Homo sapiens: one gene and its partners. The gene in region 7 interacts genetically with the main gene of each other region. Each region holds a gene or a part of one and is shown on either strand. Other genes may lie near its edges.

The links.
Region 1: changes in KEAP1 (region 7) and VGLL3 together harm fitness more than expected from each alone (negative genetic interaction), as found in Homo sapiens cells (one large-scale study listed by BioGRID).
Region 2: changes in KEAP1 (region 7) and MAPK14 together harm fitness more than expected from each alone (negative genetic interaction), as found in Homo sapiens cells (one large-scale study listed by BioGRID).
Region 3: changes in KEAP1 (region 7) and SHBG together harm fitness more than expected from each alone (negative genetic interaction), as found in Homo sapiens cells (one large-scale study listed by BioGRID).
Region 4: changes in KEAP1 (region 7) and RRAS2 together harm fitness more than expected from each alone (negative genetic interaction), as found in Homo sapiens cells (one large-scale study listed by BioGRID).
Region 5: changes in KEAP1 (region 7) and MRRF together harm fitness more than expected from each alone (negative genetic interaction), as found in Homo sapiens cells (one large-scale study listed by BioGRID).
Region 6: changes in KEAP1 (region 7) and DYRK1A together harm fitness more than expected from each alone (negative genetic interaction), as found in Homo sapiens cells (one large-scale study listed by BioGRID).

What each region holds. Positions count from the first base shown.
Region 1 is NC_000003.12:86,942,650-86,946,149, reverse strand, and holds part of VGLL3 (transcription cofactor vestigial-like protein 3), read left to right. Parts: 3' UTR 1-3,500. UniProt on the Homo sapiens protein: May act as a specific coactivator for the mammalian TEFs.
Region 2 is NC_000006.12:36,076,308-36,079,807, reverse strand, and holds part of MAPK14 (mitogen-activated protein kinase 14), read right to left. Parts: intron 3,272-3,500; coding exon 3,200-3,271; intron 1,974-3,199; exon of another isoform or gene 1,944-1,973; intron 1-1,943. UniProt on the Homo sapiens protein: Serine/threonine kinase which acts as an essential component of the MAP kinase signal transduction pathway.
Region 3 is NC_000017.11:7,628,875-7,632,934, forward strand, and holds the start of SHBG (sex hormone-binding globulin isoform 1 precursor), read left to right. Parts: upstream 1-1,260; 5' UTR 1,261-1,298; coding exon 1,299-1,409; intron 1,410-1,541; coding exon 1,542-1,633; intron 1,634-1,805; coding exon 1,806-1,995; intron 1,996-2,325; coding exon 2,326-2,487; intron 2,488-2,714; coding exon 2,715-2,874; intron 2,875-3,004; coding exon 3,005-3,141; intron 3,142-3,877; coding exon 3,878-4,060. UniProt on the Homo sapiens protein: Functions as an androgen transport protein, but may also be involved in receptor mediated processes. Each dimer binds one molecule of steroid. Specific for 5-alpha-dihydrotestosterone, testosterone, and 17-beta-estradiol.
Region 4 is NC_000011.10:14,352,684-14,356,183, reverse strand, and holds part of RRAS2 (ras-related protein R-Ras2), read left to right. Parts: intron 1-3,500. UniProt on the Homo sapiens protein: GTP-binding protein with GTPase activity, involved in the regulation of MAPK signaling pathway and thereby controlling multiple cellular processes. Regulates craniofacial development.
Region 5 is NC_000009.12:122,278,382-122,281,881, forward strand, and holds part of MRRF (ribosome-recycling factor, mitochondrial isoform 1 precursor), read left to right. Parts: intron 1-2,061; coding exon 2,062-2,217; intron 2,218-3,500. UniProt on the Homo sapiens protein: Responsible for the disassembly of ribosomes from messenger RNA at the termination of mitochondrial protein biosynthesis. Acts in collaboration with GFM2. Promotes mitochondrial ribosome recycling by dissolution of intersubunit contacts.
Region 6 is NC_000021.9:37,492,273-37,495,772, reverse strand, and holds part of DYRK1A (dual specificity tyrosine-phosphorylation-regulated kinase 1A), read right to left. Parts: intron 2,757-3,500; coding exon 2,610-2,756; intron 1-2,609. UniProt on the Homo sapiens protein: Dual-specificity kinase which possesses both serine/threonine and tyrosine kinase activities. Exhibits a substrate preference for proline at position P+1 and arginine at position P-3.
Region 7 is NC_000019.10:10,486,357-10,489,856, reverse strand, and holds part of KEAP1 (kelch-like ECH-associated protein 1), read left to right. Parts: intron 1-3; coding exon 4-209; intron 210-488; coding exon 489-665; intron 666-3,038; coding exon 3,039-3,205; 3' UTR 3,206-3,500. UniProt on the Homo sapiens protein: Substrate-specific adapter of a BCR (BTB-CUL3-RBX1) E3 ubiquitin ligase complex that regulates the response to oxidative stress by targeting NFE2L2/NRF2 for ubiquitination.

The DNA of each region.
Region 1 (3,500 bases), on a different chromosome or scaffold from region 7:
TCTAGCCCATCCAAATTTGATAAATGGAACCAGAGGTTATATACAACTACAAGGAAAAAAATGCATTTAACCATGCCACCTATGAGTGCCAGTGACTTATTTTACTTGTTTTTAATTATTCATTCATGGCAATTTAAAAAGTCATATTTTAAGTGGGATTTGTTTTTCCTGAAGGGCATTTGAAGGAACAATATCTGGGAAGGTACTAGAGAAATTACAAAGCCCGAGCTCTTTCTTATAATGCCACCTATCCCTGTAAGCTAAACAAACAAACAAACAAACAAACAAACAGTTCTATATATAATAGTTTCAACACAGAACTTAACAAGTCTCTTTTTTTGTTTGTTTAAATCTGGCTTTACTTGATTTAATTCCTTTTTAGAAAGAAATTTAGGGCAAAATAAAGTGTATATTAGGATTTAAATTTATGCCACAATTTAAAAATAAAACCAGAGGTTATATACAATTTAAATTGGGCTAAAAATTAAAAATTTGAGGATTTAACTTGATATAGCTCTCAGGATCTAAATAAAGTTTAAATTATCATTAAGACACTGCTAGGAGAAGATTAAGATTATGAAAGTAACAGTTATTGATACTGCTGGACTTCAAAGGCAAAGTTCATTTCTTCCATTAACTGCTTCCAGAGATGTCATGTAAAAAAGTTAGTGTATTAGAGAAGTTTTTTAGCTTTATAAAGAGGTTTTTTCAAATTTCTCCCATTTTTCTCTCCACCCACATAAAATAGTATGTTCAGTGAAATGCCACTTTCTATCTTTAATTGTTCGTATCATATATGCGAACTTTTTAGACATGAACATGACATGTTCAGCTAGGCAGAGTTCTCATAGATAATTTTCAAATATTTTCCTTGGCTGTAATTTATGTATTCATTTATATCCTATCCGTCTTTTGAGCTTCAGATCTATATACTCTTTTGTACTCTCATCACTCCGCACTTTGCTGTTTCTTACCTAGACTCTCTTTTACACAATATGCACATTTTTACCATTGTGGGGTCCAAATTTAAGATACCTTCCACTCACTAATAATATGAACTTATATTTCCTGGGAGTAGCCAGGTTAAATTTTCTATACTTTGGTCCATAATTTGATTTGATATGATTGTTTCATTTATAATTTGCCCAAATACATGGAGCACAAAATTTAGTGAATTTATAAATCTGGATTTGCCTTGTGTCCTTCTGAGTTTTCAAAGGCAAGTATTCAACAGTCCCTGTGTGATGACTGACAGGGTTATTTGCCTCATCCACATCCACCTTCGGAATACATTAACTTCCTTTGTAATTTATTTGAAAGTAGTGTTAAACTCATTCAGATCATTCAGTTGGATTTTCCCAATGAAGAGGAAAAGGAAAGTAGTTATTCCTAGCTCCATTTCTTATTTTCCACCAAATTTAATTGAAGGGCATTAATTAGATGTCTTCACCCTGAATTTAGACTTTGCTCTGTGTTCTCCCGGTAACTGTCAGACAAAAAGTTTATTGGCTCTGAGGAACTGAGAAATGTTGGGAACCTGGTTTCTGCTGTACACAGGAAAGATTTGTAAGTGAGCTCTCTCTTTGAAAACAGGACCCAGGCTGGGCACAGCAGCTCATGCCTGTAATCCTAGTATTATAGGAGGCAGAGGCTCGGGAGGATTGCTTGAGCCCAGGAGTTCAAGATCAGCCTAGGCAACATAGGGAGACCCTATCCCTACAAAAAATTTCTGAAAAATTACCTGGGCATTGTGGGGCACACCTGTTGTCCCAGCTACTCTGGAGGCTGAGTCCGGAGGAACGTTTGAGCCTGGGAGTTTGAGTTTGCAGCTTGCAGTGAGCTGTGATTGCACCACTGTACTCCAGCTTGGGCAACAGAGCAAGATCCTGTCTCAAAAGGAAAAAGAAAACAGGACCTAGGTGTTTGGGGTACACTGCCACCCAGGGAGTGGATCAAAAATATACATAGAAAGAGAATGAGCATGTCTCTATAATTGTCTTCTAGGACCATATTGCTGTTAGAAGTCCTAAAAGAGGATGGGTTGTAATTTAGCATAATATTCTGAATTCATTCCAAGTTTAAAATCCTGTCATTCTCTGGCTCTTCTTTTTTCACATCAAAATGATGCTGTTGGACTTAGAGGCTTCCGAACTGTTTTATTGAGGGCTACTATCTGCCTCCACAATTTTATTAAAACCACTCCACCTTTAGACAAAGGTGACTTTTGTCTGATTTTACAAATCAGATTTTATTCAAGCTTTCTAAATATCTGTGAAGTAGACCCTAGAAAATTGTCTCGTTTATTTTAAATAGAATCTATGCTTCCACCAATAAACCATCGGGAGCTAAGAAACAACATAATGTTGACAAATCAGGAACCTAACAGATTATTTTGTCTCTCATTATTAATTTGAAAGAGCCTCTAAACTTTTGAGAAATCAATGTGTCTTCTTAAGAAAGTTAAGCACCCTCTCTTAACTTTCCCCTCTATTTGCTCTCCTTTTTCTTTCTTCTTAAGAGTATTTATATTATTTTGTTAAGCAAAAATGGCTAAGATTGCTCTAAAATTTGCAAAATGAGGAGTGGATTGCAAATAATTGAGGGATTTATTTCTTTAACTTTATAAGACTTTAAAAAAAAAACCCAAATTCTAAGCACTGACATGAAAGTTGCCTTTGAGAAGCTTGTTATTCATTATACAAAAAGTATTTGCCCATTCCTATTCTAAGATTTGCAGAATATGTCACCCTATCTAGCTTTTGAGTTTGCTATCTGGTTTAATGTTGTATTTATAATTTAAAGTGGAAATCAGAAACTGTTTCAAGAACCTGTATTCTATTCCTTACTGAGTGTCCCTTCTTTAAATAGTGTTTGCTGAATTAAGCCGATGGGGGCAGTGGCGTTAAGTGGTGGAAAAAGGAAAGTATATATGTTAGAGTTTTGAATGAGGGATAAATAGAAAGCAGAATGAATTAATGGAAAAGAACTCGGCTGTTAGGCCATTCTCTAAATTCTAGTTTAGCCAAAAGTTTATGTGTGGTTTGGGGCTTCATTTATTTATCTCATGAGTAAAATGGAATAATACCTAACAGGCAGGCTCTGGAAGTTGGAAATCACATACACACACACACACACACAGACACACACACACACGATCAATCATGTAGCTCATATTAGATGTTCAATAAATAACAGCTACTACAGATGCCTATCAGTTGAGTAAGTAGTTCATTAAATTGAGCTCCCAAAGGTCTCTTCTCTTCACATCCATATCCGTTTCTGCAGCAATCAAATAGATACATGATTGTTTTTCTGTAAGAAATTACTGCAAAGAGAATCTTTTTCTCCTACTAACTGTTCCTTCTACCTGGTATAGGAGATAAATGTACGTTTCTTAATTAGCTGACTTTTTAGTATGTCATTTCTGAAGGAAAAATAAATTAACCTTAAAGTGGCATGTAGGTCCAATTCAGTTTTCCTACATGTTCCAAAATTTTATT
Region 2 (3,500 bases), on a different chromosome or scaffold from region 7:
TTAGCCACAGGCAGCTGGTGCCTATAACCACCACATTGGATAGCACAGATATAAAACATTTGCAATACCACAAAAGTTCTAGTACACAGTTCTTACTTACAAGCCCAAACCACCAATTCCAAATGCAAAATGATCAATAAATAAGGAAAACAGGGAGAAAACTGGACACTCAAACAATGAGTACCTTCTAGAGCAAGCTTTTCCAACCCAGGGCCTGCGGGCTGCACGTGGCCCAGGGCTTTGGATGCAGCCCATCACAAATTTGTAAACTTTCTGAAAACATTACGAGATTTTTTTTTTGCAATTTTTTTTAAGTTCATCGGCTATCATTAGTGTATTTTATGTGTGGCCCAGGACATTTCTTCTTCCAATGTGGCCCAGGGAAGCCAGAAGATTGGACACCCCTGTTCTAGAGGTTGCATTTAAATATCATAAATAAGTGACAGGTGCATGTCTTTCAGGCTGAAGGAAGAGGGTATGAGGCCAATACATTCTCCAAAGGTTTTTTAAAGAGGAGTTCTGCAAATTAGAAGAACAGCGAAGAACAGAATATTGGAAAAGAAATTGTGGCCTATGTGACAGGTAGCTTTGGATTATATTCTCTGGGTCTTGGTTTCCCCATCTATTAAAAACAGGGGATTCAACTAGATGTTTTCTAATTAACTTTCTGATCTCATTGGTACTTTTCAAAAAAAATGAATAGAGATTACTAACATCTTCAAGACCAGCCAAGATTAAACTAAAATTCAACTGGGTTAAACTCTAGTTGTACTCAACACTAGCTGCAAACTAGAAGACTGTGCTTTGACCCATGACAACAAAATGGAGTCTTTGGGGTGGTCCCCAGGCATCTAGAGTTTTTAAAAGCTCTGCAAAGTGATTCTGACACACTATGAGGGTTAAGAACCACTATGCTGGAACACAAGTGACCGTATAGTTCAGGCAGGAAAAGATAATGGGAAACATTTTCCTCTTGTCAGGCAATCAAAGCTGTATCTACACAGATGGCAACTTACAAGAGAAAGGTTAAGTATATTACAAATAAAAATCCTTTGAATTCGACTTTTACAATCCAGGAGAGAACATCTGTCTGAAAAAGAGCCAAGTAGAATAAAATAAATAACTAAAACCAAAATTTTGAAATGAATTCTCATGTATTAAAAAATGAATCCCTTATTAAAAAGTTTAAACACTAGGTTGTTTATCTAAAGCTCACAGAAGAAAAAGACCTAAGCACAAAGGGAAGATTTCCTACAGGCAGAAAGTTAGCATTTAAAAGGGTCAGGGAATAGACAGGTGTCTGTGAGACAGGACCACAAAGGTACAAGACTCACACTGCTTCGAAAACTTTCTAACACTAGTCTGCCAAGGAGTTCCATCCTTTCCTACCTATCACAGAATTAAAAACAAAACAAAACATTAATGATTCATAGGTAGACAATTAAGTGAGAAGGTGAAGGGGTAATCTGTTTTGCAAGGCCATTACTGAACATGATGGCTAACATTTACTGGCAGGCTCGTCTCAGTACTTTCCAGTTATTTTCTGGCTGAATTCTTACGACAACCTTGTGAGTATGTATGATTATTATCATTTTACGGTTAAGGAAACTGAGAGAAATAGAGGTTAGGAAACTTACTCAAAGTTACATAGCTGGAAATAAAAGAGCTAAGATCTAAATCCAGGAAATCTGGCTCCAGAGCATGTGCTTAACCTGTATGTTATACTGCCTTTCCCTCTCTGCCACCTTGTGTGTCTACACCGGCATGGAGGTCTGTGACTGACTAAATGGTAGCTGGAGATACAGACACAAGAAGAGGAAGGGGAGCAGGGAACAGAGAATAGCATCAGGACAGCAGCTACTCTAGAGGACAAAGCAAGGATGGGACTCTGAGATATGTACCTGAGGAAAGGGGGAAGTATGAATTTTCCCTAATTCTCTTACCTTGGACTGTAATATATATATACCAAATTTCTGAGAAACAGATATAAGGTGAATGAAACAAAGGACAAAGGAGAAACACCAGGTATTAAACTAATTTAAAATCCAGAGGTAGGGAGTAATAAGGTAAGCTAAATACAGGGAGACTGAACTCTGTTATCAATCCTAATATTCAGAGAGAAAGAAACAGCTTTACCTGAGAAATAGAGGTTTTTTCAGTTCATAATGAAAGTACATTCTCTCTAGCAGAAGATAGTTAGAACACGTGGGTAGATATCATGAACATCATAGCCATTACAGAAGTATATCCCAAACTGTAAGCAAGTGAATTGACATTCTGGTTTATAAACTCAATTAGTTTATTTAGGTAAGGGACTAAAATGGCTTTTAGATCTCTAGGCATAATAGATCAGAGGTAGCATGTCTAATATTGCCTAACCAAAACCACCTGAAGGCTAGTTAACTCAATTCTATTAAAAAAAGAAAAAATCCCCAAAACTAATTCTAGACATATATTTTAACAATCTTTCTCACCTAAACATCTTCCATAAGTAGAACTGATGAGAGTTCCAACAGACCACATTTTTCATGACATTAATACTAAACCATGAAACAAGCATACCGCAGATAGGAAAGGAGCTAAAATAAAGGGGCTATAATAAACCATAAACTAGACAGTAAGTCTTGGAGTAAATTAGGGTTTGGCTGCAATCTGGGAAAAAGTTGTGCTGGAAAAACAAAAGTACATTACATGGTAAGCTTTTCACTTCTTGCTTTTACTATTTGTTGTCAAACAACAAACATAACAAGTAAGCAGTATATCACTGCAGGTACCAAACATAGCCCTTTTAATACATAAACATAACAGCAAGATGCCCTTCATTTATAAATGGGCATCTTGTGCTCATTAAGTGTTTATACAAGAAGACTAAAACTGTCACTGGGATCTGGAGTTTCTCATGAGTATGCTCAGGTCTCAGAACTGCTGTGGGATGATTAATAAGGGACTGTTGCAAAAAGAAGACAGACTTGATGGGTTTTTCAACTTATGAGGAATTTTTCCAACTCACAAAAGTAAACTGAAGCCTCTTTCTTGGCAAGGCAAGCTACTCAGTTTGAAGAAAGACCTCATAATGCATTATCTAGACTATAAAAGCAAAATACTGAGAGTCTTCCCTAGAGATAAGTAAAAGGAGTATACACCCATGGACACTGGAATACAGATAAGAAACAAGAATCCAAAACTTTTTAAAGGATACGGTCTGTACCAGGAAACAATGTTCTTCCAGTCAACAGCTCGGCCATTATGCATCCCACTGACCAAATATCAACTGGCAAAATTAAAAAGAAGTAAAAGTATATGCAATGTCACTGTTACAATTCTTGGCAACAAATGAAACCGTAACTAGGGGTGAAATATTCAAATTACTATTTAAGACATCTGAGGCTCAACAATCATACTCATTTTTACAGAAATAAATAGCTTACTAAGATCTTCACCTGACTAAAGGGCTGTTCAAAGGTGGGGTAAGTCAAAACACACTTAAGAGAAATAAGCTG
Region 3 (4,060 bases), on a different chromosome or scaffold from region 7:
GTGAAACCCCGTCTCTACTAAAAATACAAAAATTAGACAGGTGTGGTGGCGCATGCCTTTACTCCCAGCTACTCGGGAGGCTGAGACAGGAGAATCGCTTGAACCTGGGAGGTGGAGGTTACAGTGAGCCGAGATCGTGCCATTGCACTCCAGCCTGGGCAACAAAAGCGAAACTCCATCTCAAAATAAATAAATAAAATAAAATGCGTCAGGGAGGGTCGGGCCTTGTGGCTAATGCCTGTAATCCAGGTACTTTGGGAGGCTGAGGTGGGCGGATCATTTCAGGTCAGAGGTTCGAGATCAGCCTGGGCAACGTGGTGAAATCCCCGTCTCTACTAAAAACACAAAAAAATTTGCTGGGCGTGGTGGTGCGTGCACCTGTAGTCCCAACTACTAAGGAGGCTGAGACAGGAGGATCGCTTGAACTCGAGAGGCAGAGGCAGCAGTGAGCCGAGATCACGCCACTGCACTCCAGCCTGGGTGATAGAGCAAGACTCTGTCTAAAATAAAATAAAATAAAATAAAATAAAATAAAATAAAATGGGTCAGGGAGTGGGTGATTTCTACTGCTAGACTGTTTAGGCCCTGTAATAAATGGATAAGGGAAGATAACTGAGAGGCGGGGGGCAGGTCCCTTCTTAATATTCACTGAATCATACACACAGACAATACCTTCTTGGGAGACAGGCCTCAGAGGCCTGGGAAAAGACTGGGGGAGGAGTTCAGACCAGATGCCAGGCACTGTGCCTGCATTTTCTCAATGAACCCTCTTTCACAGTCACCCCGTAAAGTATTATTTTCCTCATTTTACAGACAAGGACACTGAAGCACAGAGGTGAAGTGACTTGCCCAAGGTCACTCAGCTAGAAATTTAGGATTCCATTATCTCATTTCTAGTCCTGATACAGGATGCTACTTGGGACGCAGGGGAGGACTGTTTCTAGACCTCAGGCCTGTGAATGCAGGCTCCCCGAGTGGACAGAAATCTTGGAGGACCTAGATCAGGCCCTAGAGGAGGAGAGGGGAGATGGAATATCCTCTCCCAGTTCAGAAACTTTCTCGGCAGTGGAGGATGATAGTGGAGGGGACTCTGTCCTTCACCCCATTGATCCCCAGAGGGGTGATAGCTGAGTCTTGTGACTGGGCCCCTGGGCAGGGGTCAAGGGTCAGTGCCCCTGTTTCCTTTACCCCCTCCTCCCCGGGCAACCTTTAACCCTCCACCGCCCACACGCAAGGCTGCCTGCCTCTACACATTCTCCCAAGAGTTGTCTGAGCCGCCGAGTGGACAGTGGCTGATTATGGAGAGCAGAGGCCCACTGGCTACCTCGCGCCTGCTGCTGTTGCTGCTGTTGCTACTACTGCGTCACACCCGCCAGGGATGGGCCCTGAGACCTGTTCTCCCCACCCAGGTGCAGGAGCGGGACAGGGCACTCAGCTCATGCAGTCTTCCCTTCTCTCCTCTGGCCCTGTAGCAGGGCCTCTCCCTCTGTCTGTCTCTGACATGTCCCTACTCAGCTTTGTTTGTTTTCTCTTTCTGATAGAGTGCCCACGACCCTCCGGCTGTCCACCTCAGCAATGGCCCAGGACAAGAGCCTATCGCTGTCATGACCTTTGACCTCACCAAGATCACAAAGTATGGGGTTGGCCTAGCCCTTGACCCAGTCCCCTGGTTCTGCCCTCTCTCCATCAGCTCTTCTCTTTTCCCTGTCTTCCTTTCCTTATCTGTGAACACCATCTCCCCCAAACCCACACTGGTTCTCAAAGGACACATGACATACACAATCTTTCCTTCTGTGTCCTTCCAGAACCTCCTCCTCCTTTGAGGTTCGAACCTGGGACCCAGAGGGAGTGATTTTTTATGGGGATACCAACCCTAAGGATGACTGGTTTATGCTGGGACTTCGAGACGGCAGGCCTGAGATCCAACTGCACAATCACTGGGCCCAGCTTACGGTGGGTGCTGGACCACGGCTGGATGATGGGAGATGGCACCAGGTAAGCTAGCTCTGGTCCTCAGGGGAGGGATGTCTGGAGCTGGTCTGAGGAAAGGGAACAAAACCAAGTTATTGGGCATCCCTCTACCACTGTCATCTCGTTTAATCCACACGAACCCCCACAAAGTAGCTATTCTTGGCCCCATCTTTTCTGATGGGAATTCTAAGGCTCAGTCAGTATATAAGTGACAAGAGCTGAGTGACCCAAGGCCAAGGATGCTAGCTGCTTCTTTAAGGCATGTTCTTTCCACTATAGTACTAGGCTGCCTCACAGGAAGGTGGCAGAAACAGATCCCAGGGGCCTCTGATTTTGCTTCCCACCTTCCTGCAGGTGGAAGTCAAGATGGAGGGGGACTCTGTGCTGCTGGAGGTGGATGGGGAGGAGGTGCTGCGCCTGAGACAGGTCTCTGGGCCCCTGACCAGCAAACGCCATCCCATCATGAGGATTGCGCTTGGGGGGCTGCTCTTCCCCGCTTCCAACCTTCGGTTGCCGGTAACTACACCCCAGGGGTGGAACCCTAGCCAAGACTTGGTAAAGCACTGCTGGGTGGCTGGCCGTGGGAATCTAAGTCCACACTTTTAGGGAGAAGGGAAGGGTTGAGAGCTGCAAGGGGGAGGCCAAATGCTCAGAGGGGAGTCAACTGAGGGCAGGGAGGTCGGGACTGCGGCTCCGATGCCCTGATTTCTACATCCCCGTATCTTATCTCTGTCACACTCCAGCTGGTTCCTGCCCTGGATGGCTGCCTGCGCCGGGATTCCTGGCTGGACAAACAGGCCGAGATCTCAGCATCTGCCCCCACTAGCCTCAGAAGCTGTGATGTAGAATCAAATCCCGGGATATTTCTCCCTCCAGGGACTCAGGCAGAATTCAATCTCCGAGGTAGATTTCCTCGGAGTCTATTTTTCCCACCCTGGCCAGCTCAGCCTGCCTCTGTCCCCCTCTACCACTGGCCCCTTTCCTCCTTGAGACCCCAGCTTTGAGGCCTCAGGATAATCATTTCTCCCCACAGACATTCCCCAGCCTCATGCAGAGCCCTGGGCCTTCTCTTTGGACCTGGGACTCAAGCAGGCAGCAGGCTCAGGCCACCTCCTTGCTCTTGGGACACCAGAGAACCCATCTTGGCTCAGTCTCCACCTCCAAGATCAAGTAAAGGGGGACAGTGGGGCATTGCCTGTATTCAGTGGAGCCTGGAGCAATGAGGGAAGAGGGGAGTCCAACATGTCAATATTAGGAAGGTTTCCAGCCCAGGGAACATAACAAGACTGGCTCCACAGAATTGTTTTTCATTAATAATTAGCCAGGCATGGTGGTGCTTGCCTGTAATCCCAGGTGCTGGAGGCCAAGACCAGAGGATCACTTGAGGCCAGGAGTTTGACACCAGCCTGGGCAACATAGCAGAGACCTCTGTCTAAAAAAAAAAAAAAATTAGCCAGGCATGGTAGCACATGTCTGCTGCCCTAGCTATTTAGGAGCCTGAGGCAGGAGGTTCACTTGAGCCCAGGAGTTTGAAGCTGCAGTGAGCTATGATGTGCCACTGCACTCTGACCTGGGCCACAGTGAGACCCTGTCTCAAAAAAATAAAAATAAAAATAAGGCTTATGGATGGCACTCAGGTGGGTGGTAGGGGCGAGGGACATATCTTGAAGCTCCCCACAGCAAGCAAACAGTTTTGACTTAGACTGCATATTTACTTGGGGCAGGTGTGGTTTCAAAAAGGGTCAAGCCAAAAAAAATTGGGGCAGGATTTAAGTGGTGAGAATGGCCAGTAGGTGGAGGCATAGCGAAGAGGCAGAATTAAGGCAGCTAGGGGTGAGGCCACAGGCAGTAGGCCCGGCTCATTCTTCCCTCTCTCTCTACCGTCCCTTTCCCACACACTCTGCAGAAGGTGGTGTTGTCTTCTGGGTCGGGGCCAGGGCTGGATCTGCCCCTGGTCTTGGGACTCCCTCTTCAGCTGAAGCTGAGTATGTCCAGGGTGGTCTTGAGCCAAGGGTCGAAGATGAAGGCCCTTGCCCTGCCTCCCTTAGGCCTGGCTCCCCTCCTTAACCTCTGGGCCAAGCCTCAAGGG
Region 4 (3,500 bases), on a different chromosome or scaffold from region 7:
CCACCTGGATGCAGTCTCAGCTCTACCACTTGCTGCATGTGTAATTTTAGGCAGGTTACTTAACTTCTCTGTACCTTAGTTTTCCCCATCTGTAAACTGGGGAAATATGGTGGACCACATATAGCTGTGAAATTAAATGAGTTAACATGTCAAGGGCTTAGAACAGTGTCTAGTACAGTCTGTAGTAAAGCTGCATACATTTTTATATTAATTTTAGATTATGGAGCTAAAGCGATTTTTTTATATTTACACTTAATAGGGTAGCTATTCATTGCCTGACTCCTGGAATGTTAAAATTCATTCCACCATGATTGTTTAGCAGTAGTAACTGGAGGGAGAGAACACAGCAGACTAATCATTTTAATAAGCAGAAGTCAGTTCTCTTGGTAGGAGATTAGAATGGCACAAATTGGACTTACTTTTTTAAGACTCCTGAAACACCAGACTGTTTTTACAATTTTCAGTATATATATTTTCTACTATGTGATTTTGAGCAGAAAAAAATATAAAATTGGGAACGGAGAATTTAAAAACAATGCCTTTTACCCTAACTTTCTTTGACTTAGATTTAGTTGTTACCTTCTGTTCATATGAAGAGTTGCAAAATTAGGGAACTAAGATAATTAAATTGAGATACCTTTTCCTTTTTAAAAATAAATATAACAAATCATAAAGTAGCCATGATAAAATGTAAAGTATTATGTTATTTAATGAATATGTGTGTGTACATTACCTCCTCCTTTCTGTTGCTCATATTTCTTTGAAAAATGTGTAAAGTTCTGTTGGTAGGTAGAACACCTAAATGTTAAGTAAACTCTAGGTAGGAAATGACTTCAGGATGGTACAGAGTGGTTAGGAGAGACTGCTGGGTGTGTGGGGTCTATGTCTCTCTACCCAGGTGACTTTGAGTAGTTTCTTAATCTGCCTTTATCTCGACTGAGCTTCTCTTTCTTCCCCATGAAATGTTGGGTTTGGTTGAACAAATTTCTGCACTTTTGAAATTCTAGGAGTGTTTTTTTTTTTTTATTCATTTAACTAGCTGTGTGTTTAGTCAAGTTTCTTAGGTTCTCTAAACCCAAGTTTCACCATTTGAGAAGGGAGAATAACATTAAATAATAGTACCCTTAGGGTTTTTGGAGTAAATAAAATAATGCAGGTAAATCATCCAGCACCGTGCCATCTACAGAGTAAGCAAATAAGAATTGTTGGCTGGGCGTGGTGGCTCACACCTGTAATCCCAGCATTTTGGGAGGCCAAGGTGGGTGGATCACTTGAGGTCAGGAGTTTGAGACCAGTCTGGCCAACATGGTGAAACCCCACCTCTACTAAAAATACAAAAATTAGCCGGGCGTGTTGGTGCGTGCTTGTAATCCCAGTTACTCGGGAGGCTGAGTCAAGAGAATCACTTGAACCTGGGAGGTGGAGGTCGCAGTGAGTCAAGGTTGCGCCACTGCACTCCAGCCTGGGCAGCAGAGTGAGACTCTTGTCTCAAAAAAAAAAAAAAAAAAAAAGAAATTGTTACTTGGTTTTATTTGCTGCTGTTAGTTCTGTATCTTGGTGTTCCTCCAAAACAAAATTTGTAATTTTTTCATTTTTCTTTGACACATAATCTGGTCTATTACTTTAAGTCTTCATTGCCCTCTCCTTCCTGGCTCAACCCTATACTCCCCTCCTTACTTCTGTGTGGTATTCAGGTGATGAATGTGGATTCCGTTTTGAGTTGGAGAAATTTCTTTTTGTCAGTTTGGATTTAATTTTAAGAAATAATGAGGTAAGCATTTAATTTTGGGGTTAGTGCTTTATCTGGTAACTCTGAGAAAAGGCCATATATGTTTTAAAAATTTACAGGGAGGTTTATATATTTTTTTTAGCATATTAACTTTTTATTCAACAATTTGCCAGATTTTGAGGTAGGTAGGGGTTAGCTGATTTCTCACGTCTTGAATTTCAGTCAGTCCTATGACCTGTTAGTCTGGACCCAGCATTGCTTTTTAAAAGTTTGTCTTTTGCTGAGTACTTTTTCATTGCTTTTTCCTGGGGCAGAGAGCCGAGAAGAGATTTCAGGAGATTTGTGTTAATAGTTAATTGATCCACATGTGAAGGTTGTGAGTTTAAATTCCCAATTTGCTGTTCCATTGCTACATCTCGAAGATTTTTCCTGCAATTAGAAACTACTTAAACTGTTAACTTTTATCTATTATTTTGAAACTAGACATTTTTAGTGTTTAAACTTTTTTAACATTAATGTACAAATGAATTGTTAGCATTGAGAAATAAGACACCTGCCCCCAAAGTGGTACCATACTAAAGGTTTTCTTGTTTGGGGAACAGTTGAAATGGTCCTGCAGGCAATTCCTAGATAAAATTTCTGTACACCCAAGGAAGAACATTTTCTTATAGAGGATGACTGCCTTTGGAGAAGAAGGAAATTTTAACCTGCAGTTTCTTAACTTACGTCTTATTCTTGTTTTGTTCATTCTCTTTCTCTTTGTGTCTGTCTCTGTGTGTGTGTGTTTGTGTGCATGCGTACCCCTGTTTTGGGATAAGGAAGTTGTAGGAATTGAGTGGGGACACTTTTTTTTTTTTTTTGAGACGAAGTTTCGCTCTTGTTCAGGCTAGAGTGCAGTGGTGCAATGGCGTGATCTTGGCTATCTGCAGCCTCCACATCCTAGGTTCAAGCGATTCTCCAGCCTCAGCCTCCCAAGTAGCTGGGATTATAGACAGGCATGTGCCACAACACTCAGCTAATTTTGTATTTTTAGTAGAGGTGGAGTTTCACCATGTTGGCCAGGGTGGTCATGAACTCCTGACCTCAGGTGATCCACCCGCCTGGGCCTGCACCATGCCTGGCCGAGTGGGAGCACTTTTGTTGAGTAGGTCAAGAATACTGCTTTCCCTTGGTAGATAACAGGCTACTGCTTACCGGGATGGGATTTTAATTCATCTGATTGCTGAAATATCATGGTCTTTCCTAAGCTTTGAATAAAAATAGTCTGCTCCATTCAGTTAGGAAAATAAATTGATAACTTTAAATTGGGGGAGTAGAGTGGGAAGAGACTTTCTTAAAGCTATTAAAAAAAATTTTAGCTGGGCACGGTGGCTCATGCCTGTAATCCCAGCACTTTGAGAGGCTGAGGCGGGCGGATCACTTGAAGTCAGGAGTTTGAGACCAGCGTGGCCAACATGGTGAAACCCTGTCTCTACTAAAAATACAAAAATTAGCTGGGTGTGGTGGCGGGCGCCTGCAATCCCAGCTACTACTCAGGAGCTGAGGCAGGAGAACTGCTTGAACCTGGGAGTCGGAGGGTTGTAGTGGGCGGAGATCATGCCACTGCACTCCAGCCTGGGCAACACAGCAAGACTATATCTCAAAAAAAAAAAATGTCTCTCTCTCTCTCTCTCCCTCTCTCTCTCTCTCTCTCTCTCTATATATATATATTTTAAAAGTTTCTTTTTCAAATTAAAGTTGGTCTTTAAAATTGAAACAGATTTTGTGATGC
Region 5 (3,500 bases), on a different chromosome or scaffold from region 7:
CCCTTTGCAGATAACTATTATTCTGACTTCTAGTAGCATGGATTCGTTTTCTCTTTTTTTTTACTTTTCAGTTTATATTCTCATATCTGGCCTTTGTACTGTACAGTTTTGTTTTCTTGTGTCTGGCCTCTGTGTTCAACATCATGTTTGTGAGACTCATTTAAATTTTTGTGTGTGTTCATTCTTTCTCATGGTTGCATAGTATTTCATTCATAAATATTACTATTCATTCCAATATTGACAGGCATATCTTTAAATTATTAATGTGCATATTTGGTTTTAAAAGTTCAAAGTTGAAGATATTATTTCAGTTGCTTCTGGCTTCTGTTGTTGCTCTTGGAAAGTGTTCTAAGTTTTAATCCTTCATGGATAATTTGTCTTTTCTCTTGGGCGTTTATAAAGATCTCTTTGTCCTTTGTTTTCTGCAGTCACAACATGTCTAGGTGTGAATTTACTTTTATTGTCCTATTTGAAACTTGTGTTTCTCAATCCGAAGATCCACATCTTTTTTTTTTTTCTTTGATCTGTCGCCCAGGCTGAAGTGCAGTGGCACTGATCTCGGCTCACTGCAACCTCCACCTCCCGGGTTCAAGCGATTCTCCTGCCCCAGCCTCCCGAGTAGCCGGGATTACAGGCACACGCCACCACGCCCAGCTAATTTTTGTAATTTTAGTAGAGATGGAGTTTCACCATTTTGGTCAGGCTGATCTTGAACTCCTGACCTCGTGATCTGCCTGCCTCGGCCCCACAAAGTGCTGGGATTATAGGCATGAGCCACTGCGCCCAGCCCCACATCTTCTATCAGTTCTGAAAAAAAACCTAAGCCATTGGTTTCAAAGCATAATGGTAACATGGGCAAATAAATGTTTTTAAAAATCACTCTGTTGCTTACCAGTTGTTTACTTTGGACGAAACATTTAAATGGCTTGTGCCTTAGATTTCTCATCTGTACCATGGGGACAATACTAATCACTATTCTTCCTACCTCAGAGAGCTATCTTGGATAGCAAGGAGGAGAATGTACTTGAAATTGCATTGCAAGTTATAATATGCCACCCAAATAGTACAGGATTGAGTTCACTGTAGATGTTCAACAAAATTTATTTAATGAATCTCAATAAATATTTGTTGAATGTTTAATGAATAAACAGTGTAAATATTGTTTAAAATTTTATTGTTTTTCTCCTTCCCCATTCCCTATAAAAGAAATGCAAGAATATTTGCATCACTCACAGAAATTATCTATGTATACACCTAGAATGTATATGAAAAATCACTACGATGATTTAGACATAAAATGAAATTATATTCAGCTCCCAATGCTGTTGATTTTCTAAAATATAAGCCATTGTCTCTACCATTGGTAGTGTTTAATGTCTGTAAACTACTATTGTTCCTTTTGTCTGTACTCTACCAGCCATCAGATATTGTGTGCATATCCTTGTCTTAGTGTCCATTTTTAATGAATTAATGTATTTCCTGTCTCTCTAATTAGATTTTGTGGAGATGGGCTAGTGAAAAGTTCATGGGTTTAAAATTAGGCAGATCTGGAACCAGATCTTGACTTTTCCATTTCCTGACCTGTGACATTAGGCAAATAGCTTTACCTTTCTCATCTTCTGTTTACTTTTCTGAAAAGTAAGGGATTAATTTAGTTATGGATTCCCTGCCATGTGTATAGTGTTCTTTTAGGTGTTTGAATGACTTAATTTGTATCCTTGTAGCAACCTTGCAATATAGATGTTACTATTCTTTTACAGGTAGGGAACTTGATACTCAGAAAGATAACTTGCCTAAGGTCATAAAGCTAGTATGCATTATAGCCAGACTTCTAACCTGGGGTGTCTGATTATAAAGTGTGCCCCCTCACTAGTATCTGAGAAGGTGTTTAGCACAGTTGACACTCAGTTAATATAGGCTCTTTTTTAGTGGAGCGATAATGTTTTATAATTTTCTAACACTTGACATTTTTCCCTGTACATAGTAGGTACTTCTTCACCAATTGCTTATTGGCTCTGTTTATGCTGCTGTTGTTTTATTCACTGAATGTTCACTTTTTAGCCAAAGGGAAAGGACAGTCCCAAACCAGAGTGAATATTAATGCTGCCTTGGTTGAGGATATAATCAACTTGGAAGAGGTGAATGAAGAAATGAAGTCTGTGATAGAAGCTCTCAAGGATAATTTCAATAAGACTCTCAATATAAGGACCTCACCAGGTTAGTGACTGAACCAATGTTCTGGGGAGGGATGTAATGGAAAGAGCATGGGTTTGGCAGAGTTGAGTTTTAGTCCCAGCTTTGCCATTTACTAACTGGTGGCCATGGGCAGTTACTTTGCTTTTCTGGTCCTCGGTTTTCTTGTTTGATTCTTAACTTACAGCTTTGGGGTGGTAGTTAAAATAAATGAGGTAACGTATTATGGTTCTAGCATAGTGCCTGGCGCATAGTTAACACTACATTTATTTATCCATGCTGCAAATTTTTGTCTACTTTGGAACTAGGCATTGTGCTAGTGCATAGTAGTAAACAAAAATAGGTATTGTCTTTGCTATCATGGAATTAGACTCTCAGAAAAATGAGATTTTTATTATGAATGTACTATAAACACATCTAGGTATTTAGTCTCATAGTAACTGACATCTTTGGTCCGATTTTTCCAATTTGTCCTGTTTGGCAGTTCTTATCCCTTACTGGGAACCAAATGAATACAGACCTGCCCACGTGAGGCATTTCTATACCCCTGAGCTTGACCAGGAAGATTCCGTTTGGGTTAATAACTTCCTGAAAGTGGCTTTTCTAAGTGGGAAATGTCAGAACTGTCTAGGCCAACTGTTTGCAGATGTGATGGAGAAGTGAGTTGTCAGCTGATGGTGCAAGCAGGCAGGAAAAATCCAGTTGCTGTTAAATTAGGCTTTTGCAAATTGTCATCATCCTAAAGTCAAACCTGGGACCCCTCTCTTAAGGTACCTGTGGGAGCTTGGGCTGCTTCTACTCACATCTTGATTAGGATAGTTCATAAGAAAACTAGAAATATTTCGCTCTTAAGAAAACCAAGTGAAAAATACAGCTCCACTTATAAACACTATCAGAAACATTACCGAGTTCAGAGATGAGATCCAGTGTGAAACTAGAAGACTGTTCCCGTCACTTGTCAACCTTTGGGCTGGGGCATTTCTGCCTTTGCTGACAGTAGAGCGTGCCATTCAATCTCTCTCAACTGTTTATTTTAAACTTGCTTATTATTTTAGGTATGAAACTGATAAAGTGCTCTGTCTCCCCTGTGTTTTCTGGCCTGTTAACATTCTGCAGCCGAAACCAGAGAGCAGTTTGAGAGGAGCTCAGGGAGAAATGTGATACTTAAAATTAGCCAGCAAGCTCCACTCTTGTTGAACTTAAAAAGATGATGGGCCTGGAAAGAGGTTGGGAGTGTAATTTGTTAAATGTTAACCTCTGAGAAAATGAGGGGCAGGAATGAGGCTGAGGGAGATTCTCGCTGGGGA
Region 6 (3,500 bases), on a different chromosome or scaffold from region 7:
TCACCCAGGCTGGAGTACAGTGGTGCACTCAGAGCTCACTGCAGCCTTGACCTCCTCCCAGGCTCAAGTGATCCTCTCACCTCAGCTTCCTGAGTAGCTGGGACTACAGGCATGTACCACCATGCCCGGCTATTTGTTTTTTAGATGGAGTCTCGCTCTGTCACCCAAGCTGAAGTGCGGTGGCGCAATCTCGGCTCACTGCAACCTCCACCTCCCAGGTTCAGGCAATTCTCCTGCCTCAGCCTCCTGAGTAACTGGGACTACAGGCATATTTTTCAGTAGAGACAGGGTTTCACCATGTTGGTCAGACTGGTCTTAAACTCTTGACCTCAAATGATCTGTCCACCTTGGCCTCCCAAAGTGCTGGGATTACAGGTGTGAGCCACCGTGCCCGGCCCCATGCCCAGCTAATTTTTAAAAGTTTTTGTGGAGATGGGGTTTTACCATGTTGCCTATGCTAGTCTCAAACTCCTGGGATAAAGCAATCCTCCCACCTTGACCTCCCAAAGTGCTGGGATTACAGGCGTGAGGTACGGCACCCAACCCAGTTTTCAGAGCATGTTAAATAACCACACACACACACACACACACACACACACACACACACACACACACACACAAAATCCCAGAGGCTTAATAAAGTATGGACCTAATAAAGTACTTTTTTAAGTACTTTAAATGAGTGTGCCTATTATATGCTAGGAACCATATTCAGTGGTAGAAAATAATAAACAAAACATAAAAATTCCTGCCAAAAAGAAGTTTATGTTATAGTGGGAAGACAGCAAATACATATACACACAAACACACAATTTTTTTTTTTTTTTAATGGAGTCTTGTTCTGTCTCCCAAGCTAGAGGGCAGTGGCGTGATCTCGGCTCACTGCAAGCTCTGCCTCCTGGGTTCAAGCCATTCTCCTGCCTCAGCCTCCCAAGTAACTGGGATTACAGGCACGCAACACCACACTAGGCTAATTTTTCTATTTTTAGTAGAGACGGGGTTTCACCATATTGGCAGGGCCAGTCTCGAACTCCTGACCTCAAGTGATCTGCCTGCTTCAGCCTCCCAAAGTGCTGCGACTACAGGTGTGAGCCACTGCGCCCGGCATTATCAATAAATAATTAAATACATGATGTCAGATGCTGGCTAAGAACTATGGGATGAGGAGAAGGGGTACTGCAACCGTAAGTGGGGTATATGGTTTCACCGAGAATGTGACATCAGAGCAAACACTAACATCAGCAAAGGAGTATCTCAGAAAAGAGCATTTTAGGCACAGGAAGGAAGAAATACAAAGGGCTATGGGCCTGTAGCTGGCGTTTTCAAGGGACCACAGAGTGAGGGGAGAAGGAGAGACCAGGTGGTGGTGAGAGAACTGGCATCAGAGGAAGTAGGAATCTGTGGGTTACTCAAAGGACCTCGGCCTTTACAATGAGTAACATGGCAAAGTTTTTTTAATATTGTTTAAGCCCAAGAAAGATACTAATTTACACAGTAAGATTTATACTAAAAAAAAAAACAAACTATGACAGTTACTATAAAAGAGTAGCTCACCAGTTCAAGTTGAAATGAATTAAAAGGGGCTGGGCACAGTGGCTCACGCCTGTAATCTCAGCACTTTGGGAGGCTGAGACGGGCAGACCACTTGAGGTCAGGAGTTCGAGAGCAGCCTGGCCAACATGGTGAAACATCAACTCTAGTAAAAATCCAAATATTAGCCAGGCATAGTGGCGCTTGCCTGTAATTCCAGCTACTCGGGAGCCAAGATTGCCCCACTATACTCCAGCCTGAGTGACAGAGCAAGACTCCATCTCCGGGAAAAAAAAAAAAAAAAAAAAAGAAGAATTAAAAGGAAGGATGGAAGAAACAAGTTTCTGACACCACCTATTAACAGCTGTGTAATCCGGTACAAGTCATTAATGCCTTTGGCCTTTCTCTTCTCATTTATAAATAGACTGATCAAGACGTGCAAATTGTCAATTTTTCTTTTAAAAAACAAACAAAACCCCACAGGTGTAGTTTTTAAAACAATGAAAGTCTAATTTCTCTGACTGCAGGGAAGTTAAGGCCTGTCCCTGCCCTCCCATTCACTGCCTCTGACCTTGAAAAATCTTCCAGAACACAGACTGAAAACCTGTAGACTTCAGAACTGCACACAGTCTCTGTAGCCCTACAAGTCTATAATCTCGTTTACTCTACATTATTCAGACTGAGTATCCATCAGTCCTACTGATCATTACTCTTCAACTCCAAATCATAATCTCAAAATTTAGAGTGATGTTTGTATCACTCTTCAGGATGGCCTTCATTCTTTATCATCTTTAAGCTTTCTGTATTGTATTTAAAACCTGTAAAATGTATGCCAAAATACTTAACACTTTCTAACTGTTCTCCTTCATGAGTAGATTAAAATATCCTACTCCTATCTCATAATTCTAAACTTACATGACAACTGACAAATATGAAAAATAGGTATATTCAAACTGACCTCACATTTGAATGATTAAGTAGACATCTTTGCCTAAAAACAACTTTTAAATTACACTGTCACAGATGAAAGACAAAAAGAAATTATGAAAACAGAATTTGTAAAGCAATACATCATTTACCTCATTGGCACCACTGAACAGAGGTTCTCCAGTGTGCATTTCAACCAAAATACACCCGAGGGACCACATATCAATGGCAAGGTCATAAGGCATTCCCAGTAGCACCTCTGGAGACCGATAAAAGCGACTCTGAATATACTGGTATATCTGAAATATATTTCAAAATAGTATTACTTCAATTGCTTAAAACTGCAGTCAGCATTGGATTAAAAACATTGATCTGATATTAACAGAAAAGAATTGGCTAATTCCTGAATTAGGGTTCCATTGATTAACTTCAACATTAGACTACGAATACGGCTTAAAGAACTAAACATTTTGAGGGATTGGTTAATCTGACTGTGAAATGCATAATACGTAAAGATTCAAGCCCTTTCATTTAGTCTAATCCTACCTAGTCATCATGATATTTCTTAAAACAATTATGCCTCACTAGGAAAAAAAAAACACTATTGAAAGCAATGTATTTCCCTAATAATTATTTCTTCCTACTATGGCTGGCACTTAGTTTACCACTAACTTTACAACTAAATAGTATTTAAATTAACCCAAACAATGTATTTCTCAGCGTTAAAAGTCAAGTAACTTCAATATAATATAATTTAAAATTCAGATATTTGTACTCTTGCTGTCTCACAGATAAATCCCAGAAACACTGCCACATAAAGATTCAATTGAGAGCTGTCTCTGACCAATAGCTTCTTCTCTCATCTTCTCTCTCTACCTCCATCCAAGACTTCTTATAGAAAGACAATCCTGAAATGGACTATTTTCAATGAAGTAATGTTAGGATGTCTTCAGAGACCAATTTGTTTCACTTATTAAAAGTGGAAAAGAAATAAAATCCTAACTAAATTTCCTAACACCCAAACCATGCAGCCAGAAAGCTCA
Region 7 (3,500 bases):
CAGGTATGAGCCAGAGCGGGATGAGTGGCACTTGGTGGCCCCAATGCTGACACGAAGGATCGGGGTGGGCGTGGCTGTCCTCAATCGTCTCCTTTATGCCGTGGGGGGCTTTGACGGGACAAACCGCCTTAATTCAGCTGAGTGTTACTACCCAGAGAGGAACGAGTGGCGAATGATCACAGCAATGAACACCATCCGAAGCGGGGCAGGTGGGTGGGGACGGTAGGGAGGGGAGCACCCAGGAACACCCCCTACCATCCTGGGGTGAAACTGAGCCAGGCCTGGGAGAGACCCCCTGTTGCAACCCTCATGCTGGGGTAACCACAGAAGCCCTGGATTCTGATAGAGTCCAAGCTTCTCTCTCTCCCCGCTTCATTTCTGAGGGTGAGAAGGGAGAGGAGAGAGGAAAGGTCTCCCTCAAGGAGGTGATGGCTGGGGTTCCCAAAGCCAGACCCCCAGAGTCACCTTCTCTGCATGGTGCCCTTTAGGCGTCTGCGTCCTGCACAACTGTATCTATGCTGCTGGGGGCTATGATGGTCAGGACCAGCTGAACAGCGTGGAGCGCTACGATGTGGAAACAGAGACGTGGACTTTCGTAGCCCCCATGAAGCACCGGCGAAGTGCCCTGGGGATCACTGTCCACCAGGGGAGAATCTACGTCCTTGGTGAGGCCCTGGGGGCGGGGAAGAGTCCTGACTAGCCCATCTTTTGTGGACTGCTTTTGCTTTTGCTTTCCTTTTTTTTTTTTTTTTTTTTTTTTTTAGAAACAAGGTCTCGCTCTGTTGCCCAGCTGGAGTGCAGTGGTGTGATCACAGCTCGCTGGAGCCTCAACAGCCTGGGCTCCAGCCATCCTCCTGCCTCAGCCTCCCAAGTAGCAGGGACCACAGGCGCGCACCACCACACCCGGCTAATGTTTTTTTTCTTTTGAGATGGTGTCTCACAGTGTTGCCCAGGCTGGAGTGCAATGGCATGATCTCAGCTCACTGCAACCTCCACCTCCTGGGTTCAAGCGATTCTCCTGTCTCAGCCTCCTGAGTAGCTGCGACTACAGGCACATGCCACCACACCAGGCTAATTTTTTGTATTTTAGTAGAGACAGGGTTTCACCATGTTGGCCAGGATGGTCTCGAACTCCTGACCTCGTGATCCACCTGCCTCGGCCTCCCAAAGTGCTAGGATTAGAGGCATGAGCCACCGCGCCCGGCCTGTTTTGTTTTTTGTTTTGTTTTGTTTTGTTTTGTTTTTTGAGACAGAGTCTCAGTCTGTTGCCAGGCTGGAGTGCAATGGCACGATCTCAGCTCACTGCAACCTCCGCCTCCTGGTTTCAAGTGATTCTCCCCCATCAGCCTCCCAAGTAGCTGAGATTACAGGCGCCTGCCACTATGCCCAGCTAATTTTTGTATTTTAGTAGAGATGGGGTTTCACCATGTTGGTCAGGCTGGTCTTGAACGCCTGACCTCAGGTGATCTGCCCACCTCAGCCTCCCAAAGTGCTGGGATTACAGGTGTGAGCCACCGCGCCCAGCTTAATGTTTTTGTTTATTTTTATTTTATTTTATTTTATTTTTTTGAGACAGAGTTTTGCTCATGTTGCCCAGGCTGGAGTGCAATGGCGCAATCTTGGCTCACTGCAACCTCTGCTTCCCAGGTTCAAGTGATTCTCCTGTCTCAGCCTCCTGAGTAGCTGGGAATACAGGCACGTGCCACCACGCCTAGCTAATTTTTTTTTGAGATGGAGTTTCACTTTCGTTGCCCATGCTGGAGTGCAATGGCTCGATCTCGGCTCACTGCAACCTCCACCTGGCAGGTTCAAGCGATTTTCCTCCCTCAGCCTCCCGAGTAGCTGAGGTTACAGGCATGCGCCACCACGCCCGGCTAATTTTGTATTTTTAGTAGAGAAGGGTTTTCTCCATGTTGGTCAGGCTGGTCTCGAACTCCTGACCTCAGGTGATCTGCCCGCCTCGGCCTCCCAGAGGGATGGGATTACAGGTGTGAGCCACCATGCCCGGCCAATTTTGATTTTTAGTAGAGACGGGGTTTCACAATGTTAGCCAGGCTGGTCTTGAACTCCTGACCTCAGGTGATCCACCTGCCTCAGCCTCCGAAAGTCCTGGGATTACAGGCATGAGCCACTGTGCCCGGCCTTTATTTTATTTTATTTTTATTTTTTTATTTTTTGTTTATTTATTTATTTATTTATTTTGAGGTGGAGTCTTGCTCTGTCACCAGGCTGGAGTGCAGTGGCACAATCTCAGCTCACTGCAACCTCCGCCTCCCGGGTTCAAGCGATTCTCCTACCTCAGTCTCCCAGGTAGCTGAGATTACAGGCGTGCATCACCAATCGCATCTAATTTTGTATTTTTAGTAGATACAGGGTTTCACTCTGTTGGCGAGGCTGGCCTCGAACTCCTGATCTCAGGTGATCTGCCCGCCTCGGCCTCCCAAAGTGCTGGGATTGCAGGCATGAGCCACCGCGAGTGGCCTATTTTCCTATTTTTATTTATTTATTTTGAGATAGGGTCTCACTCTGTTGCCTAGGCTAGAGTACAGTGGTGCAGCCTCTGCTCACTGCAACCTCTGCCTCCCAGACTCAACTGATCCTCCCCACCTCAGCCTCCCTAATAGCTAGGACTACAGGCGCGCACCACCAAGCCTGGCTAAATTTTTATGTTTTTTTGTAGAGATGGGGCTTCACCATGTTGCCCAGGCTGGTCTCAAACTCCTGGACTCAAGTGATCCACCCACCTCAGTCTCCCAAAGTGCTGGGATTATAGGCGTGAGCTACCAAGCCTGGCCATTTTTTTTTTTTTTTTTTTTTTTTAGTAAGAGACTAAGGTTTTGCTATGTTGCCCAGGCTGGCTTCGAACTCCTGGCCTCAAGCAATCCTCCTGCCTCAGCCCTGCAAAGTGCTAGGATTATAGGCGTGAGCCACCACGCCCGGCCTGCTTTTGCATCTCACAGCTGCATCTCTCTCTTTCTGTCCCCTGCTCTTGGATGTGGTGTGACAGGTGGTGACCATCCCTTCTGTTCTTCCCGCAGGAGGCTATGATGGTCACACGTTCCTGGACAGTGTGGAGTGTTACGACCCAGATACAGACACCTGGAGCGAGGTGACCCGAATGACATCGGGCCGGAGTGGGGTGGGCGTGGCTGTCACCATGGAGCCCTGCCGGAAGCAGATTGACCAGCAGAACTGTACCTGTTGAGGCACTTTTGTTTCTTGGGCAAAAATACAGTCCAATGGGGAGTATCATTGTTTTTGTACAAAAACCGGGACTAAAAGAAAAGACAGCACTGCAAATAACCCATCTTCCGGGAAGGGAGGCCAGGATGCCTCAGTGTTAAAATGACATCTCAAAAGAAGTCCAAAGCGGGAATCATGTGCCCCTCAGCGGAGCCCCGGGAGTGTCCAAGACAGCCTGGCTGGGAAAGGGGGTGTGGAAAGAGCAGGCTTCCAGGAGAGAGGCCCCCAAACCCTCTGGCCGGGTAATAGGCCTGGGT